Homo sapiens: one gene and its partners. The protein of the gene in region 3 binds, or shares a complex with, the protein of the main gene of each other region. Each region holds a gene or a part of one and is shown on either strand. Other genes may lie near its edges. The genes, in order: CNN1, ITPR1 and PRKG1.

What was found.
Region 1: PRKG1 (region 3) and CNN1 share a complex: the UniProt entries of both Homo sapiens proteins name them as parts of the cGMP kinase signaling complex.
Region 2: PRKG1 (region 3) and ITPR1 share a complex: the UniProt entries of both Homo sapiens proteins name them as parts of the cGMP kinase signaling complex.

Annotation. Positions count from the first base shown.
Region 1 is NC_000019.10:11,534,323-11,542,002, reverse strand, and holds the start of CNN1 (calponin-1), read right to left. Parts: upstream 3,153-7,680; 5' UTR 3,076-3,152; coding exon 3,013-3,075; intron 2,709-3,012; exon of another isoform or gene 2,434-2,708; intron 2,019-2,433; exon of another isoform or gene 1,578-2,018; coding exon of another isoform or gene 1,317-1,577; intron 928-1,316; coding exon 806-927; intron 1-805. UniProt on the Homo sapiens protein: Thin filament-associated protein that is implicated in the regulation and modulation of smooth muscle contraction. It is capable of binding to actin, calmodulin and tropomyosin. The interaction of calponin with actin inhibits the actomyosin Mg-ATPase activity.
Region 2 is NC_000003.12:4,496,345-4,503,641, reverse strand, and holds part of ITPR1 (inositol 1,4,5-trisphosphate-gated calcium channel ITPR1), read right to left. Parts: intron 1-7,297. UniProt on the Homo sapiens protein: Inositol 1,4,5-trisphosphate-gated calcium channel that, upon inositol 1,4,5-trisphosphate binding, mediates calcium release from the endoplasmic reticulum (ER).
Region 3 is NC_000010.11:52,295,303-52,298,963, reverse strand, and holds the end of PRKG1 (cGMP-dependent protein kinase 1), read right to left. Parts: 3' UTR 614-3,661; downstream 1-613. UniProt on the Homo sapiens protein: Serine/threonine protein kinase that acts as a key mediator of the nitric oxide (NO)/cGMP signaling pathway. GMP binding activates PRKG1, which phosphorylates serines and threonines on many cellular proteins.

The DNA of each region.
Region 1 (7,680 bases), on a different chromosome or scaffold from region 3:
TTTGGGAGGCCAAGGCAGGTGGATCACTTGAAGTCAGGAGTTCAAGACCAGCCTAGTCAACATGGTGAAACTCCATCTCTACTGAAAAAAAAAAAAAAAAAACAAAAATTAACCGGGCATGGTGGCACGTGCCTGTAATCCCAGCACTTTGGGAGGCTGAGGTAGGTGGATCAATTGAGGTCAGGAGTTCGTAACCATCCTGGCCAACATGGTGAAACCCCATCTCTACTTTAAAAAAATACAAAAATTAGCCAGGCATGGTGGTGCGTGCCTGTAATCCCAGCTATTGGGGAGGCTGAGGCAGGAGAATCACTTAAACCCTGGAGGCGGAGGTTGCAGTGAGCCGAGATTGTGTCTCTGCACTGCAGCCTGGGCAACAGAACAAGACTGTATCTCAAAAAAACAAAAAGAAAACAGAAAGAAAACCAGGGCCTCCTTTAATTATTGCTGCACATCTCTCCTCACATCACCAAGCCAGCCATGAACAGCTGTTGGCTGCTGCCTTTTAGCTGTGACCGCTCTTTCTGGGGACTCTGGCGGCCACAGATGGGCCTACCCTATATAGCATGGTGGTTAAGATTCTAGAGTCATTTCCCTTGAAACCACGTGGGACTTGGTGCAATGCATTTCACCTGAGCCTCAGTTTTCTGTGCCTGTTAAATGGGCACAATGATTACTGGCCACCCCAAAGGTATCCAATAGAAAGTGTTCAACTCAGTTCCAGGATCATGGTTGTTTTGGGGGTTGAGGGGCTGCATGGAGTTGGGGGATGTTGCAGGGTCTCGGCTTCGAGAGCCTCACTCACTCGCAAAGAATGATGCCATCTTTGAGGCCGTCCATGAAGTTGTTGCCGATGCGACGGCCTGTCACCCCCTCGATCCACTCTCTCAGCTCCTGCTCCCGCTGGTGGTCATACTTCTGGGCCAGCTGGGGCGAGGGGAGGGCAGGGGGCACAGAGAAAGGGGTGAGGATGCATTGGGGGCAGCCTGGGCTCCCTGGGTCCTGTCTGAACTTCCTAGAGCCTGATCTCCCTCGTCCTTCCCAACTAAGGCAATTTTGCCCCAGATCCATAGTTGGGGGATGGGGGCTGGGGCGGGCTGAGAGCCAGGGCTGAGGTGGCACCTGCCCAGGGGGCCATTCCGGGCATTCTGAGGTTTGGCACCAGGGAATGTAGATGAGGGGTGGGGTGTGGGGAGCTGGATCCTCTGAGCTAGAGGGGTGGCACCCGGCACCCTGGTTTTTCGCCCAGGCCAAACTTGGGGCTTCTCTTCCTCTAGCCCTGCCCCCTCTGTGCCCCCTGTTGGAAGAGAGGGCACCTCAGGAAGGGAAGAAGGATGTCTAAGGAGGTGTCCCTGGGTGCTGGCTTGCAGAGGAGTGCTGGTCATACATCTCTGTCTCTCCGTGTCCCCCAGGTCTTCAGCTCCAGGGCTCTGTCTCTGGTTAGTGGTGGGGGCTTGTCTCTGTCTTAGCCCCCACCCCTTGCACGTCTGTATGTCTCTCTCCCTCTTATCCCCCCGACTCCTCTGTCTCTCTCTTCCCCAGCGCTGTCTTTTCTTGGCCCAGTCTTGGGTCCCCATCTCTCTAGGTGGCTAGTCCCTGTCTGGCCAGGGGTAGGGCTCCTGGGTCTTGTATATCTGCCTCTCTAGGTCTTTCTCTGTCTCCAGGTTTCCTGCCTGGGGTGGGGGTGGTGGGGCTCTGTCTCCTCTCCCTGCCCCTCCATCCTTGTCTAGGTCTTATCTCGCTCCTGGCTCGCCCTCCCCCGTCTGTCCCTAGGGTGTCTCAGGCTCCCAGTATCTCTGTCTGCCTCTCCCCCCACCTCCCTGCTTTTCCCTCTCTCCACTGTCCCCCCCCTCCCCCACTCCACTCCCATTTCTCCAGAACCCTCCGCCCAAGCCCAGCCAGGCTCCCAGCCCCTAGGGGACCGGGCTGCCTCTTCTTCTCCCGGGTGAGTGGGGGGAGGTGGGAGGGGCGGCCCCCTCACCTGGCCCTGGCCCTGCCGCCCCCCACGCCACCAGCCCGGCTTTATAAAGCAAACCGGCCCTTATATAGCGTGGCCCGGGCTCCCCGAGGCCGCCTTATAAGGCGCGGCGTCTCTGCGCGGCTCTGCGCGGCTCTGGGGCCGGCGCTGGGGGGGAGGAGGGCGGCGCTGGGATCTGTCTCTCGCCCGAGGACCCGCCCCCCACCAGCCCCCTCCTCCAGCCCCGAGATCCCTCGACCCAGGTTCCAACCCAGTCCCCCACTTCCTCACCATGGGACCCTGGGAAAAGCCACCCTGAGCCTCAGTGTTCCCCTCTGTCAAATGGGGCAGGAACTCCTCCCTCGGCAATACTGTTGGGGCGATTCCAGTGGGCTGGAAACTTAAAGTTCTCCAGCTGGGAGAAGCTGAGCCCATCCTGGTGTATGGGGGGTGAGTCCAGGGTCCGAGCGCTGTACCTGCTTTACCTGGGACCCCAGCTATTTGCCTCTCCTCTCCGAACCTCAGTTTACCCAACCATAGCATGAAGGTGGTGTCCAGGTATCTTCCTAGCTCCACAGTCAGGAGACCCCTGCCGCACTTCTGATGCCCGCTTCCTGCCTTTCACCGTCCCCCTCTGTCTTCAGGATCTCCCACACTTTCACGGCGTCACTTCCCAGGTACCCCAGCACTCAAGCGCTCCCCAATTTCTTTGTCAGGCCGGGGGATATGGAAAAATCAACAAGTCTTCCCCCTATGTTGTTCCCCCCAAGAACACGAAGGGTTAACAGAAGACTGATCAGGTGGGTATCTTTGCAATGGACTGACCCCCTCTGTTTATGTGTGGCTGTGTGCCCCCCCATTCCAGCCCCAACCATAGCTGGGGGCTCCGGGATGTTCAGGGGGAGACAGGCAGCCCCTATCCCATATCACTCCCTTTTCCCCTCTCAGTTTCCAAGTCACATAGGATAGGCAGGAGGGGGTTCAAGGGACCCCAAGCTCAGGGCTCTGGCCTGGCAGGACGTGTGGGCCAGGCCAGGGAGGCCCTCCAGCCCTACCTTGTTCTTAACCTCGGCTGACAGCCCGTAGGCAGGGCCTCGGTTGAAGTGAGCAGAGGACATGCTGGCCGGTGGGCTCTGGCGGGGGCAGTGGCGGCACTGACGCTGAGAACAGAGGCAGCGGCTGAAGTTCCGTCTGCACACTCTTCCCTCCTCACATGTTTTTGAAGCTCCGGAGGCGACCCGGGTCTCTTCCAGGGCCGTTCCATTGGCTGTAGGGGCCTGCCAAGGGGCGGGGCACCTCCCCCCACAACCTCAGCTGCCTTCCCCTCCCCTTGTGATGTCAGGCCCTTGGTATTGGGAGCTGATTGTGTCATTGTTTCCACCTAGGGGGGCAGCCTGCGTTATTCTGGGGGGGCTTGGTCAGACAGAGACCAGCCTTCTTCCACCCACCCCTCCCACTGTCCATTGGGCCTCTGGCTGGGTCTGAGTCTCTTTGTCTCTGAGGTCATCTCTCTTTATCTCTCTGGAGTCTTGAAGCAGGACTGACACCCAAGGTAGTTTAGTGAGCACCATCCCGGGTTTATCTCCAGATACCAACAGTCTATAGCCTTAGGTAAGCCCCTTCTCCTCTCTGGGCCTCTATGGCCACATCTGTAAAATGGGCTAACGATAGTGCCTGCCTCATGGGAGAGTTGTAAAGATCAGAAGAATATGCCTGTTACATGCCCAGCACAGTGCCCGGCACAGCAGAGGGACTCGGGCCATAGCAGTCTTTTTAAGGCAAGGTTTCACTCTGTCCCCTCGGCTGGAGTGCAGTGGCACAATCACAGCTCACTGCAGCCTTGACCTCCCAGGCTCAAGTGATCCTCCCATCTCAGCCCATCCAAGTAGTTAGAATTGCAGACTTGTGCCACCAACCTGGCTAATTTTATTTTATTTTTTTAGAGATGGGGTCTCGCTATGTTGCCCGGGGTCTCGCTATGTTGCCCAGGCTGGTCTCAAATTTCTGGGCTCAAGCAATCTGCCCGCCTTGGCCTCCCAAAACGCTGGGATTTACAGGCATGAGTCACCATGCCCAGCCTATAGCATTCTTTATGCTGAGGGTCCAGCACCCCAGTTCTGTCTCCTCCAGCCCCTCATAAGGACCTGGGGGAGAAGAGATCCTGGGTCTCACCCTCCCCATCCACTTGTGTGTCACCTGAACTACAGGGTGACTTTGTTGGCAAGTCCCAGGCCGTGAACTGTGTCCCTGTCAAACAGCCCTACCCAGCCAGATCTCACCCCTGGACCACAGGGGTGGATGCTATGCCCACATCATGCCCCACATGGCAAGGCCATGTTTGTGACACTTGGATGACATGTCTGCAACCTGCCACACACTAATGATATGTTGAGGATATGCAGTTTATCGGTCACATGCTAATGGCATGGCTGCAATATGCCACAGACTACAGCCCTTATGTCAGGCCATGTTCCAACTCTGTACATATATCCATTCAATTCTCATGACGCCCTCAGAGATGGACACTGTTATTATTATTATTATTATTATTATTATTATTATTTGGAGACAGAGTCTCTATTCCCCAGGCTGGAGTGCAGTGATGCTATCTCGGCTCACTGCAACCTCCACCTCCTGGGTTCAAGCGATTCTCCTGCCTCAGCCTCCCAAGTAGCTGGGATGACAGGTGTCTGCCACCACGACTGGCTATTTTTTGTATTTTTAGTAGAGACGGGGTTTTGCCATGTTAGCCAGGCTGGTCTCGAACTCCTGACCTCAGTTGATCTGCCCACCTCGGCCTTGCAAAGTGCTGGGATTACAGGCGTGAGCCACCGTGCCCAGCTGACACTGTTATTATTAATACAAGTACTTTGCTTTACAGGTGGGGAAACTGAGGCACGGGGGCTTGGAATCACTTTTTCAGCGTCACACAGCAGGCCAGGGGCAGAGGAGAATTTGAGACCATGCTCCATGAACCTCAACTATGAGGCTAAGGTGGGGTTTCTCAACCTCCACACTGTTGACAGCTGAGGCTGGATAATTCTTCATGGTTGGGGGGCTGCCTTGGGCATTCATTGTAAGACTTCAAGCAGCATGCCTGGCCTCTACCTGCTACATGCCAGTAGCACTCTCTTAGTCCTAATAAACAGAAATGTTGAGGCACTGCGGCAGGACCCTGTAGTCCCAGCTACTAAGGAGGCTGAGGTGGGAGGATCCCTTGAGCCCAGGAGTTTGAGAACCATCTGGCCAAGATAGCAAGACCATGGTCTCTAAAAAAGAAAAATTAAAAGAAGAAATGTCTACACACATTGCCAATGTCCCATGATTGGGGTCGGGGTGGAAGCAGATCACCCCTGTTTGCCAACCACTGAGCTAAGGCAATGTGCTAGTTGATGGCATGTCATGATATGTTGAACATACACGAAAATACATAAAATACGAGGCCAAGGCGGGAGGATCGCTTGAGCCCTGGAGTTCGAGACCCGAGACCAGCTTAGGCAACATAGCGAGACCCCGTCTCTATTTAAAAAAAAAAAAAAGAAAAAATAGAAAGTACATAAAATGAGCTAACAATTAGCACCTGCTACGTACTAAGAGCTTTGAGCCTGTTAACTCATTCCTCACGACAGCCTTATGAGGTGGGTCTATACGAGGCACAGAGAGGTGACGCCGAATGGCCGGGTCACACAGCTCGAGGGTGGCAGGGGCGGGATTCGAACGCGCAGATTCCTGGATCCCTCCCAAACTGAGCGGCCCTCGGGGGCCGCAGTTCGCTACTGCGCATGTGAGGACCTGCAGCCGGCGCCCCCTGGCGGCCCGGGAGGGGCGGGGGCGGGACCTGGCGAGGTCCAGGCGGCGGTGACGTCACGCGATGACTCACTCGGCCCCGCCCCCCGGCCCGCGGCCTCTTGGCCATTTATAGAATCTGCACGGACTCTGAAGTCACGGCCCAGGCACGACGGGGGCGGGGTGGGGGAGCTCTTGGCGTGCCCCCCAACGGGGCAGCCCCGGGTACCCCCAGGGGGCAGCCCTTTCGGGGACTGCCTTGTCCCTCTGATTGTAGTAGGTCTGTGTCTCTGTATCTCCGTCTCTGGGTCGCTGAGCCTTTTTCTGTCTCTGCCTTTGTCTCTGTGTCTCTGTTTCTGTGCCTGGTCTTTGAGTCATTCTGTTTCTCTTCATGTCGCTGTCGCTGTATTGTCCGTCTCTCTTCGCGTCTCTGTCTGGTAGATGGGGGTAGAGGCATTAGAGGGGGCTGATCCCATATCGAGGCCCCAATCCCAGTAGACACCCGAGTGTCATCCCTTATTCGCTCCTTTCTGGCATTTTCCAGGCTCTAGCCCCTCTGTGCCTCAGTTTACCATCTAAATGAGAAGTGTAGGATCTTGTAAGAGGCACGGTTTCCCGAAGGGTCTAGGACAGTCATTGTAGGAAAGCCATGCCTCTCCTCAACTTCAGGGGACCCCCTAAAACCTTCCTGATGCTCAGAACCATTTAAAACTCACACTTGGCCGGGCGTGGTTTCTCACGCCTGTAATCCCAGCACTTTGAGAGGCCAAGGCGGGTGGATCACCTGAGGTCAGTAGTTCAAGACCAGCCTGACCAACATGGTGAAACCCCGTGTCTACTAAAAATACAAAATTAGCCGGGCATGGTGGTACATGCCTGTAATCCCAGCTACTCGGGAGGCTGAGGCAGGAGAATTGCTTGAACCCGGCATGTCAGGCAGAGGTTGCAGTGAGCCAAGATCACACCACTGCACTCCAGCCTGGGCCACGGGAGTGAGACTCTGACTCAAAAAATGTAAAAATAAAAATAAAACCCACACTCACACGTGTTTGTCTGTGTGTTTTGGGGAAAGTCAAAGCCCTGCTCTGCACCGGCCTATCTTGGCATCCTGCTCTGCAAGCTCCCTCCTCACGAAGCTTTCCTATCCAGAAATCTGGCAGAGGCTCTTGTTCCTAAAGGCTTCTGTTATGGGAACACTCACTCCATGCCAGCCACAATCTCTTTTAATCCTCACCATCACCTTCTGAGGGTAGAAACTCATAGGTCCATTTTATAGATGGGAAACTCAAGGTTCAGAGAAGCCAAGCCACCCTCCCAGGTAACACTGTTTGTACCTTTTCTTCCAAGTCCCTCCAGATGTGCTGTTTCTTCTTCTTCTTCTCCCTCTTCTTCTTCTTCTTCTTTCTTCTTTCTTCTTTCTTCTCCTTCTCCTTCTCCTTCTTTCTTCTTTCTTCTTTCTTTTCTTCCTCTTCCTCTTCCGCTGCTGCTGCTGCTCCTTCTCCTTCTCCTTCTTCTTCCTCTTCTTCTTCCTCTTCCTCTTTTTCTTCTTGTTCTCCTTCTTCTTCCTCTTCTTCTGCTGCTGCTTCTCCTCCTCCTCCTTCTTCTTCTTTCTTCTTTCTTCCTTCTCCTCCTCCTTCTCCTTCTTCCCCTTCTCCCTTCTCTCTTCTCCCTTCTCCTTATTTCTTCTTCTTCTTCTCCTTTTTTTTTTTTTTTTGAGTCAGAGTATCGCTCTGTCGCTCAGGTTGGAGTGGCATGATCTCGGTTCACTGCAACCTCCACCTCCTGGTTTCAAGCAATTCTGGAGCCTCAGCCTCCCAAGTAGCTGGGATTACAGGCACCCGCTACCACGCTGGGCTACAGATGTGTTTCTTGAGTCCCCAAACATGTTCCCACCTCAGGGTCTTTACAATAGCAGTTCCTGCCACCTGGAACACATT
Region 2 (7,297 bases), on a different chromosome or scaffold from region 3:
CAAAATGCCAGTAGCACCCCACCCCTGCCTGCCAGATAGAACAACCAAAAATATCTCCAGACGATACCAAATGTCCCCTGGAGGACACAAATCACTCTCCCTGTCCCCATTGAGACCACTGCTCTAGGACATAGATAGGTTTTGCTTTGTTTTTTTATCTGTAACGCCTTCTGCAAACATTTGTTTTTAGACAACTCGGCAGCAATGACCCGAAGCAGGTATTTTTATTTTTACACCTATTCTACAGAAGAGGAAACAGATGCACAGATGTTCCATGTTTTGCCCCTTACCCAAGAAGCAGTCAACACTCGGTACTGCGGAGTCCCCATCCTGTGGCTCACCAGGGCAATACCAATATGACCTGAAAGCAGCTTGGTTTCACTACCTGATTTTTCCACTCCCTTTTATGAATACTCAACAGTTTCCCAAGACAAATGTCCTGCAGAGATTTGTACTGAACAACACCTCAAAAGCTATCAAAAGGAAATGCTTAATATCTCTACATGGTCCTCACGTCACCCTCTGCAATAAAGGGCTTTTCTTTTTTTCTTTTTATTGAGATGGAGTCTCACTCTGCCCCCCAGGCTGGAGTGCAGTGGTGCGATCTCAGCTCACTGCAACCTCCACCTCCTGAATTCAAGCAATTCTCCTGCCTCAGCCTCCCAAGTAGCTGGGACTACAGGTGCCCACCATCATGCCCAGCTAATTTTTTTTGTAATTTTAGTAGAGATGGGGTTTCACCATGTTGGCCAGGCTGGTCTCAAACTCCTGACCTCAGGTGACCCACCCACCTTGGCATCCCAAAGTGCTAGGATTACAGGCGTGAGCCACGATGCCTGGCTGTAAGGCTTTTCAAAGAAAGATGCCAGTTCAAGAAATATTTAATCAGGAGAGGGGTACAGGGGCCAGGCGCAGTGGATCACGCCTGTAATCCCAGCACTTCGGGAGGCCAAGGTGGGCAGGTCATGAGGTCAAGAGATCGAGACAATCCTGGCCAACATGGTGAAATCCCATCTCTACTAAAAATATAAAAATTAGCTAGGCATGGTGGCACATGCCTGTAGACCCAGCTACTCAGGAGGCTGAGGCAGGAGAATCGCTTGAACCTGGCAGGCGGAGGTTGCAGTGAGCTGAGATCAGGCCACTGCACTCCAGCCTGGTGACAGAGCGAGATTCCTTCTCAAAAAAAAAAAAAGGAGAGAGGGGTACAAAAAATTAGTTTTTCCAAGCAGCCTTCAAAGGGAGAAAAAACATATATACAAATTACTTATTGTGTAAGCACTTCCTGTGTGCCAGGTATTCTTATGAGTTAAAAAAACACAAAAGGCCCAAAAGGAAAATAGGTTTTAGGGCCCTGGAGTTTCAAATGACAGATTTTCAAGTATCATAAAAAACTTCCCGGAGGAGGAAGCGTTTGGGCTGGGCCCTAAGGAATAGAAGGATCTGGCGAGGTGGACAGACGGGGGTGGGGAGGGACACATGAGGTACAACATACACACACACGACAAGGCAAACAAATGAATGTCCGTCGTCTGGGTGTCGTATCAGCTTTTTCTGTTCAGAAATATGTGCTTGGGATGCTTTTAAGCTGTTCTTGCAAAAGAAAATCATTTCCCAGACAAAGCTCCTTCTGAAATGCAAAAGAACAGCAAGAAACTTGGAGACTAGTGATATTTTTCTTATGTTCATCTTCTTCTGATAAGCCGCATTATATCAAGCCATCCAGAAGTTCTGCTGATGGGACAGGTCAGAAAGTATGATAAAACATAAGTTCCTCATTGTCCCATGACAGCAGGTGAACAGCAGTGACTTCACAACTCTAAGTAGGGGTACATGTGCCTTCTGGTCTCTTTCTGCCTTCATGTGAACAGCGAATAAAAGCTCCCCCAAATGTAAGCATCAAAGTTCCCATGTTTGTTGGAGAGGGAATCATGTGAAAACTACTTACTCTCACCTCAGGTTGGTGATTAGCCTACCTTTCCACTTCACTGAAAATAAGGCTGCAGGGGAAAAGTACAAAGGTCAGCTTCAGCCTGAACAGGTGAGAGCTAGCCATGAAAAAGCAAAGGAACCACTAAATGACAAGGACTGAAAAAGCACAGGGACAGGCATCCTCCAATGCATATCTTCTCGTATTTTCACGTGTGTGTGAATCACTTGAGGATCTTGCAAAAATGTAGGTTCTCATTCATTGAATGTGGAGTAGGGTCTGAGAGTCTGCAATTGCTAGCAAGTTCCCAGTTAATGTCAGTAACGCTGGTCTGGGGACCACACTTGGAGTGGCAAAGATGTAGTACAGTGTTTCTCAAACTTTTGACTGCAGCTCAGAGTAAGAAAACTATTGAACTTACAACCCAATGTTCATTGTGTATGTGAGACAAAGAATTTTGTTGCAACATACACAGTTCTTTTTAAGTATCCACGAAATACACTTCCATGTTTTCTATTCTAGTGCATGTCATTAAAAAAAAAAAAAGTTTGGCTGGGCCCGGTGACTCACACCTCCAGTCCCAGCACTTTGGGAGGCCAAGGCGAGAGGATCGTTTGAGCCTAGAAGTTCAAGGCCAACCTGGACAATACAGGGAGACCCAATCTCTACAAAAAAAAATTTTTTTTTTAAATTAGCCAGGAGTGGTGGGGCACGCTGGTGGTCCCAACTACTCAGGAGACCGAGGTGAGAGGATCGCTTGTGCCTGGGAGGTTGAGGCTGCAGTGAGCCAACATCATGTCACTGTACTCCAGCCTTGGCAACAGAGCAAGACCCTGTTTCAAAAACTAAAAATAAAAAGTTCATCAAGGCCCACTAAATTGATTTAACAACCTCTTAGTGGGTTTCCACAGAGTTTGAAAAACACGGATACAGAACAAGAGTAACATTCCTGCTCATCTGGGGAGAACAATGATGTCTTAGCCTCAGGACACTAAGGCTAAACCCAAAACCAATTTTTAAAAAAAGTTTAGATTATATTCAGAATTCTTTGCAAAAAGGCAAGGATAGGTCAATTGCATTTTGGAAATACTTTCACCTAGGAAATTCAAGTTTTAAGTTTTCTTCATTTTAATTTGTCTTCTCGTCTGTAAGATGAGGATGACAAGAGTACCTACTTGGCCCTAGGTGGAGATCTCTAAATACCATTTTGGCCAGGCATGATGGTCTCACGCCTGTAATCCCAACACTTTGGGAGGTCAAGGTGAGAACACTGCTTGAGCCTAGGTGTTTGAGAGCATCCTGGACAACATGGCGAGATCCCGTCCCTACAAAAAAACAAAAAAGATTAGCCAGGTGTGGTGGTGAATGCCCATAGTCCCAGCTACTCAGGAGGATTAGGTGAGAGGGTAGCTTGAGCCCAAGAGGCAGAAGTTGCAGTGAGCTGAAATCATGCCACTGCACTCCAGCCTGGGCAGCAGAGTAAGACTCTGTCTCAAAAAAACAAAACAAACAAAATTTCCCTCTTAAAAGAGCAAAGGCTCCTTGGAGAAAAGGCCGATTCTTGGTCTGGGATAAGAAATAGAGAAGATGAGCCTGGAACATCTTGTTATACAGAAATCAAAAAAGCTAGCAAAGACAACAAGGGCTGTGTCGAAATCTCAGGAACTTTACCAGCCCATTTCTCACTGACGAGAGAACTAATGGATTCAGGTAGTGAGCATCAAGGGGTGCTCATATAACAAGAGTAGACATCCAACATCTCACACCCACCTAAGCAAAGTTTACAGAGCAGACTTACTGGAGTCCCAGCTACTGGGAAGGCTGGCACAGGAAGACTGCTTGAGACCAGGAGTCCAAGGCCAGCCGAGGCAACATAGTGAGACCCCTTCTCAATTTAAAAAAGAAAAGAACCTAACTTTGATGAAGCCTCTACATCTAACTACCAAATTATGGTACCCCAAGGGGATACAGAAACATGTTAAACCACATTGCACTGATGCAGTCAGCAAAGTCTAAACTGTGGAGACGTGTATCACCCAGTTTCTTCGATAACAACAAAAAAAATGCATGGAAAAAAGATCTGTAGAGGAAATACAGAGATTAGTGAACATCAACCATTTGTAATGTATTTACCTTATTTGGATCCTAATTCAAACTGTTAAATACGTGTATGTGTAAAATTATTATATTATGTATTTTTTACAAATATCTATTTATATATGTATATATATCAGGGAAGTATAAACCTAGACTCAATAAAAATGAAAGGCCATCAAAGGGGTAGGCACATTTAGAAAAATGAGACACAGATGTCTGTTTATTAAAAAGATGTTCAAGATGTACAAAAGGTAATTTACCAAATGAGAGATACTGTGTTAGTCCCTTTTTATGAAATTTAAATATATACGTAAATTTTACATATGCATACTTAGAGGAAAAGCCTGAAACCCTAATCTCTAATAGTTGAATTGTTTTGTTTTGTTTCATTGCTCCTCTTTATTTCCTAATGTTGCACTACAATGAATATGCTATCTTTTTCTCCTTAAAAAAATTTTTTTAACAGAGATGGGGTCTTGCTGGAGTACAGTAGCTATCACAGATGCAATCATAGTATATTACAGCCTCAAACCCCCGGGCTCAAGTAATTCTCCTGCCTCCGTCCCCTGAGTAGCCGAGTCCAAGGTGTGTGCTACATGAATATGTATATCTTATGTAATAAGTAACAAAATTTGAGGTTTGCTTTAAGTTTGCACATGTGCAGGGGTCCACTTCACTTATTAAGGAGAATCACTGATGTGAAGCTTCTAATTCCTCAAGGATGCTGGAGAGCAGAATATTAGTCCTCCTTGTAAATATCTCTTAAAACGACACTGGATACAACGCAGGGTGGCGGTAAGACATAGGTTTGTGTTGAAACTCCAGGATTATCATTATGTTCTTACAATTTGCTCTCCAAGTCAACTGTACGTTCACCTATTTGTCAAACTTTCCTTTTCTACTGAAGTGAATTACAACTCCAGGTAAGTCCTGTCATTAACCAGACAGTCCAGAAATCTGGGTTTTACCCCCTATCGAGTTCCCATCTGGTATGTGATCCTGCCAACCTTACCAGAGTCTCTTCAGAAAGGACAATGTAGTTTTGTGATGTTGAAAACCACACTGAGAATTCCGTGAGAGTTTACAAGTCCTCAGATAAACCACTGTTGACCTGCAAAATCTGGTCCCTACAGGTCTGGACCTTGACTCCCTCTCCCTCCTGAACTCCTAGCACTCTCCCCTGGCCTTCTTCTCCTTCCTCCAACATGTCACAAACACTCCTATCTCAGGGCCTCTGTACTTGCTGCTCTGACATTTGGAACACACTTTTTCCCTGACAGCTACAGGGTCAACTCGTTTGCCTCCTTCAGATCTGTGCTGAGATGTCATGTAGTAAAGATCTAATCCCCACCTGAGTACTCCCTTAATACCCCTCATCATGTTTTGTTGCTTTTTAAAATTACTGTAAAATATACATAACATAAAATATACCACTTTGAAATGTTATAACTCAGTGGCACTAAGTACATTCACACTGTTGTGTGACATCACCACCATCCATTTCCAGAACTTTTTCATCTTTCCAAACTGAAACTCTATCCTCAATAAACACTAACTCCCCCTTCCTGTCTTCTATCTCCCCCAGCAATCCCCATTCTACTTTCTGTCTGCAGGGATCTGACTACTCTAGATGCCTCTATAAGAAAAATCATAAAATATGTGTCCTTTTATTTCTGGCTTGTTTCACTTAGCATGTTTTCAAGGTTCATCCACATTGTAGCATGTGTCAGAATTCCCTTTTTAAGGCTGAATAATATTCCATTGTATGTATATTTCACATTTTATCTGTTCATTCATCAGTAGACTTGTGTTGTTTCTACCTTTTGGCTACTGTGATAATGCTTCTACTGACACAGGTGTACAAATATCTGCTCACGTCCCTACTTTCAATTTTTTAAAGTATATACCTTGAAGTGGAATTGCTGGGACATATAGTAATTTTATGTTTAATTTTTTTTAGTAACTGCCATGCTGTTTTCCACAGCAGCTTCACCATTTTACATTCCCACCGGCAATGCACAAGGGATCTAATTTCTCCACTTGTTATTTTCTGTTCCCCCTTTAACCAGTTTTCTTTTTCTCCATAGCTTTTACTACCTCTAATACTATAATACTTACTTGTTTATTTATATTGGCTGCCTCCCACCAACTGAGATGTAAGCCTCTTGGGAACGGGATGGTTTGTTCATTGCTATATCCTGAGCACCTGGAATACATCTTAGTACATAGCAGGTGCTCAAGAAATTTGTTGAATAAAGAATAAAACATTTGAATCGCACACAACTTGAACAGGTCTTAGAGTCTGTTAAATAGATTTACCACACCATGTGCCTTAAACTACATCCAATTTAGAAATCTCAAAGTTGAATGGGTGACGGTTTCAGTGGTGTATCTGGCTTATTCTCATTAGCAATCATCTCAGAACCACAGAAACCAAGAGAATTGTAAGGAATCATAGAAGTTATGTCATTCACATCACCGACTTCAAGCCTTAATTGCATTCATCAATTGAGCTATGCACAAACTTAAAACAGCAAAAATGGAAAAAAAAAAAACTGCATGGACTTCTGGTTAACAGACAGCCTGCAAATGCAATGTGTTTTATTTTTAAAAATCAAACCAATAGTAAACAAGATAGACACTGGCCCTGTGGAGACTCCTTAATTAGATGTAGCCAAAGACAGCTTGACCTAGAAACCTAACTCCAGGCCTACTTTTATTTTGGCTGTTTTTTTCTGTTGTTCATATTTGGTGTTTGTTTTATTTTTGTTTGTTTTCTAAGAGCTGCTCATGAAGAAATCAGACAGTTTCCATGATATCTTTATAAATGAGTTGAAAAGCCATGTGATATTCCCCCCTCTGGAAGTCAGTTGGTTGCACACCATTGGATTAAAGGTTTCTTTTTTATCTTTCTCTCTGCCCACTCTCCTCCCTCCCCGCAATACCAACACCCTGATCTTCCTCACTTAAAAATATTTTGAAGAAAAGACTCTTGATCTTTCTGTGGAGTTCATCTATCTCTTTTTTTCTAAGCAACCATTCCACTTCTCATTCCTAAAGAAAAGATGCCAATTCCCTCCAAAAGACAATCACTTGGTTTAAATAGATACCATTGTCAACCCCAAATGACTTTCATGGGTCTCAAGGCAAGAGCCAGAGTAATTCACTTAGAACATGAAGAACTTTCCCTGCCTGATAAGAATGATATCTTGAAAGGATTTTCTGTTCTGATTTGAATTATTCAAAGAGCAGATTGTACTTTCAGTGTAC
Region 3 (3,661 bases):
GAGAATCTTCATGCTGCAGCCAGTTTTCATGTGTGCATCATTTACTGCAGAGAAGGACAAAGGGATGTAGAAAGAATATGTTTAACTAGGCTTTGGAGAGTTGAATTTGTTGTAATCATATTGTTCCCCAAATGTTTCTTCTTTGTGCATATGATGAAGCCAAGGAATCAGGTGAAAAATCCTTGGACAAAGACTCATGAAGTTGCTTTTCATATGAAATCATTTCCTCCTAGGATGTAGTAATATACAAGAATTGTCCCTTTGATTGTTTTGCCTAGTACAGAGTTTGACTAGGGATAGCCCAAAAAAGGACTGTGTGGTGGTCATGCTCAGAAATCTGCTAATTTCTGAGTTTGTGTGAATATCTATATTCACTTTGCTTTTCACACTGGATGGCCCAACATTATTCCTATGAATTCTTTAAAACCAATTTGTTGGATTAGTTTTATATTAGATTATAATATAGTATATTATTTCATGAGGGATGCTTGGATTATAGGTATTTCCTACTTTGTTATAGTGACATTCTACAACAGCACTACCTGGTATTTCATCTAGTATGATATACCAATTCTATTCTTGGAATCTTGTCTGGAATTAAACATCAACTAAGTTCAAAAGTAATTATTTTTTTATTTCAACTCTATAAAGTATACAACAGGCACTCAGCAATTACAGCTGCAGGAAAAATACAGAGCAAATCAAAGCAGGTAAATTTATGAAAAAGTTTTTAATCTACATCAAAAGAGTGCAAGTGGTCAATGACCATTTGATGACAGTTTGTTGCATTCTGACTAACAAAGAACTCTTTCATGTAGAACAAATTGTAAGAGGACAATCAAATAACCATAGCTGTAAGAATACAAAAGAACTGACCAGTTGTAAAAACATCATACATTGAAATAAATTTGATAGATGATGCTTAAAGAAATGTCCCTTTACTCAGAAAGCCCCAACCTCTGAGTCATTGCCAAGGTCCCAGAGCTCTGTCTGTTGATTCAGGGGCAGAGAGGAGGGCTAACAACACACTTTCAATGTTTTGCTTTCTAGGTCTGTTGAAAACTTGCCTCGTAAATGATTTGCATATACAAGAACTCGGAAAAAGCATCCTGTTTTGTTGAGAGGTGCACCAAGTGACTTTTTCATCATTGGTTTCATAACGAGGTCTGGTTAGCAGTCATTTCCAATTTTTCTTTTCGGTTGGACCATTGTCAATGGAGTCTATAAAATGAGATATGTTAGAACTTGACTGCACTAATTTATTTTTACAGAATCTGCACAGCTTAGCAAAACAGGAATACCTGTATACAGACTGATAGAATGTCATATATTAATTTGACCTGCACATACATTTATACATTTCACAGAAATGACGCTGTATCTCATTAACAGATACACAGCTCTGGTACATTTAACAGAAATAAGAGAACAACTTCATCATTTCTGTAATTCATCAATATTATATAATAAAGGCTTATAAATTGTTAGCAGAAAGAACTGTAAAACGCAGCAAGCTAAGAAAGGACAACATTTTGAGGTGTGTTTGTCTTTGTCATGCAGCATAACACCAAATTTGTTTTTTTAATAGGATGCCATGAATTTAAGGCACTTGCAACAATGCCAGATAGCCAGGTCATGTTCTAAACTATGGGACAGATGAATAACAGTACAGTTGACATAATTTTCAATAATACTGACAATTATGACATTAATTCAAGTCTACTTGGACCTAAAAACATTATTCAATACAAATAAAATGAAATAATAATGCTGTGAAACACTAAAAAAAGTTATATGTACCACAAAATATCACACAAAAATACCTATTTACATAAATATTTGTCTGTGGTCCTATAGTGAAAGAAAACGTTGTTATGGATAATGCACAGATCACCTCTATTGTATGAAATCAGTTCTAATATCCTTATTTTCAACATGGTAGCTGACTTCATTAAATTTGTTTACCATCAGTTCAGTCATTTAGAAATGAAACAGGAAAAATTCAATAGTTGAGTTTATTACTACACATGTGTAATTCACATGCATATTCCACAATTTTAGGTAAAAATTATGACTTGTAAAGAATATAACCAAAATAAATTTGTTTTGAATGCCACATGGATCTGATTCATGTCTTAATAAGAAAGAAGATATAAACATAAAAAGCATGTATAGCGTTTTTCCAGAAATTATTTTTTCAAATGTATTCAATCTATCCCAGTTGTTTTAATGTTGCTTCCCTTGGCAGTTTCAGTTTTCCTGTGAGTCAAGACACACAGAAAGCCCTTATTTCCCATACTCAACACATTAACAAGAAAATCATATAACAAATCAAACAAGTTGGCACTATTCTAACTTATCCAGATGTTCTTTAATGTAAGAAAATAGAGGGGTTGTGAAAAATTCAGAAATAAAGTGAGATGCATTTTATGGAACTGACCATGAATTTTAGCCCTAGAGTCTTCATTAAGACAAGATTTAAATCCTAAAAATTCAATGTTGACAAAATTAGACGAATGTTTTCTGTTGGTACATCTTGGAAGATGTAGTTTACCTTTATTTTGTGGTAATTACTTCAGACATCAAATGCAATGCTATGGGTGAAATGAACAAAGATGCAGTAACAAGTGGGAGAAACAATCTACAGTTTCTTGTGCTGAATGCTACTTCTTCCTTCTCCATTGAACTTATTCATATTGGTTGTCTTAGACTTGAACCATAGTTCCAAAATCCATAGCAAGTGCTAATCTCTGGGACTTTGGGGATTTTTAAAACGTTATAGGAGCAGATTCTCTTTCCAAATAACAAGGTAAATTTAGTATTCTAGCAAGCCTTTCTTTAGCAAGCCTAAACCACATTATCTTTCAACAAAAGTTACTGAACATTCACTATAATATTGGAATTACATATTTTTAAAAAGCCAATTAAAAATATAAAACTCTTGAAATAACATTCATAGCTAGATTTTAGGTTGATATGTTTAATTTTATATTCTAAAATCTGTAGAAAACAGTGGATATCTTGGGGAATAGACCAATTTGGAGAAATTGTAAGGGACGGAAAACTCCAAAAATACAAGAATAACAATATTTTAGGATTAAAGTTCTAATTGAAGTTTATACCCTTTTCATTTTATCCTCCAAAATTTTAAGAATATTATATTTTCATAAGATACCATATTCTAAGGTAGTTTTGAGTAAGAACAATTCAAGCAAAATTTATAAGATTTGCCTTCTTAGTTAAGGTGTAATGATCTAATTGGACTTTTTCTTCCAGAAATGTAGGCGTTTGATTGATTAAAAAGAAAACTCTACTGAAAAAAAAAGCAAGCGTCAATTTAATATACCAAATTCACACAGGGCCAAAACAGAATGACAGCTTGAAAGCTTCTATATTTTTCTTCACAGGTATAATGTAATTTTGTCCAGGAAATGCTTCCAAATGGCTGAGTTACTTATGACAGCTAATAATAGTCAACTGGCATGCCAGTGAAGGACTCAGTTTAATTTGTGGATTCTTTTCTCCATGTGAATAAAGTAAATCAGCTTGACATTTTCAAATCTAGTCTTTTTTAGGTAGTATGAAATTGCAGAATTGTAGTAATTCTATTTTATTTAAAATTTATTTTAAAAAAATCAGGTTCCTGTTTTCCTCTGTACTG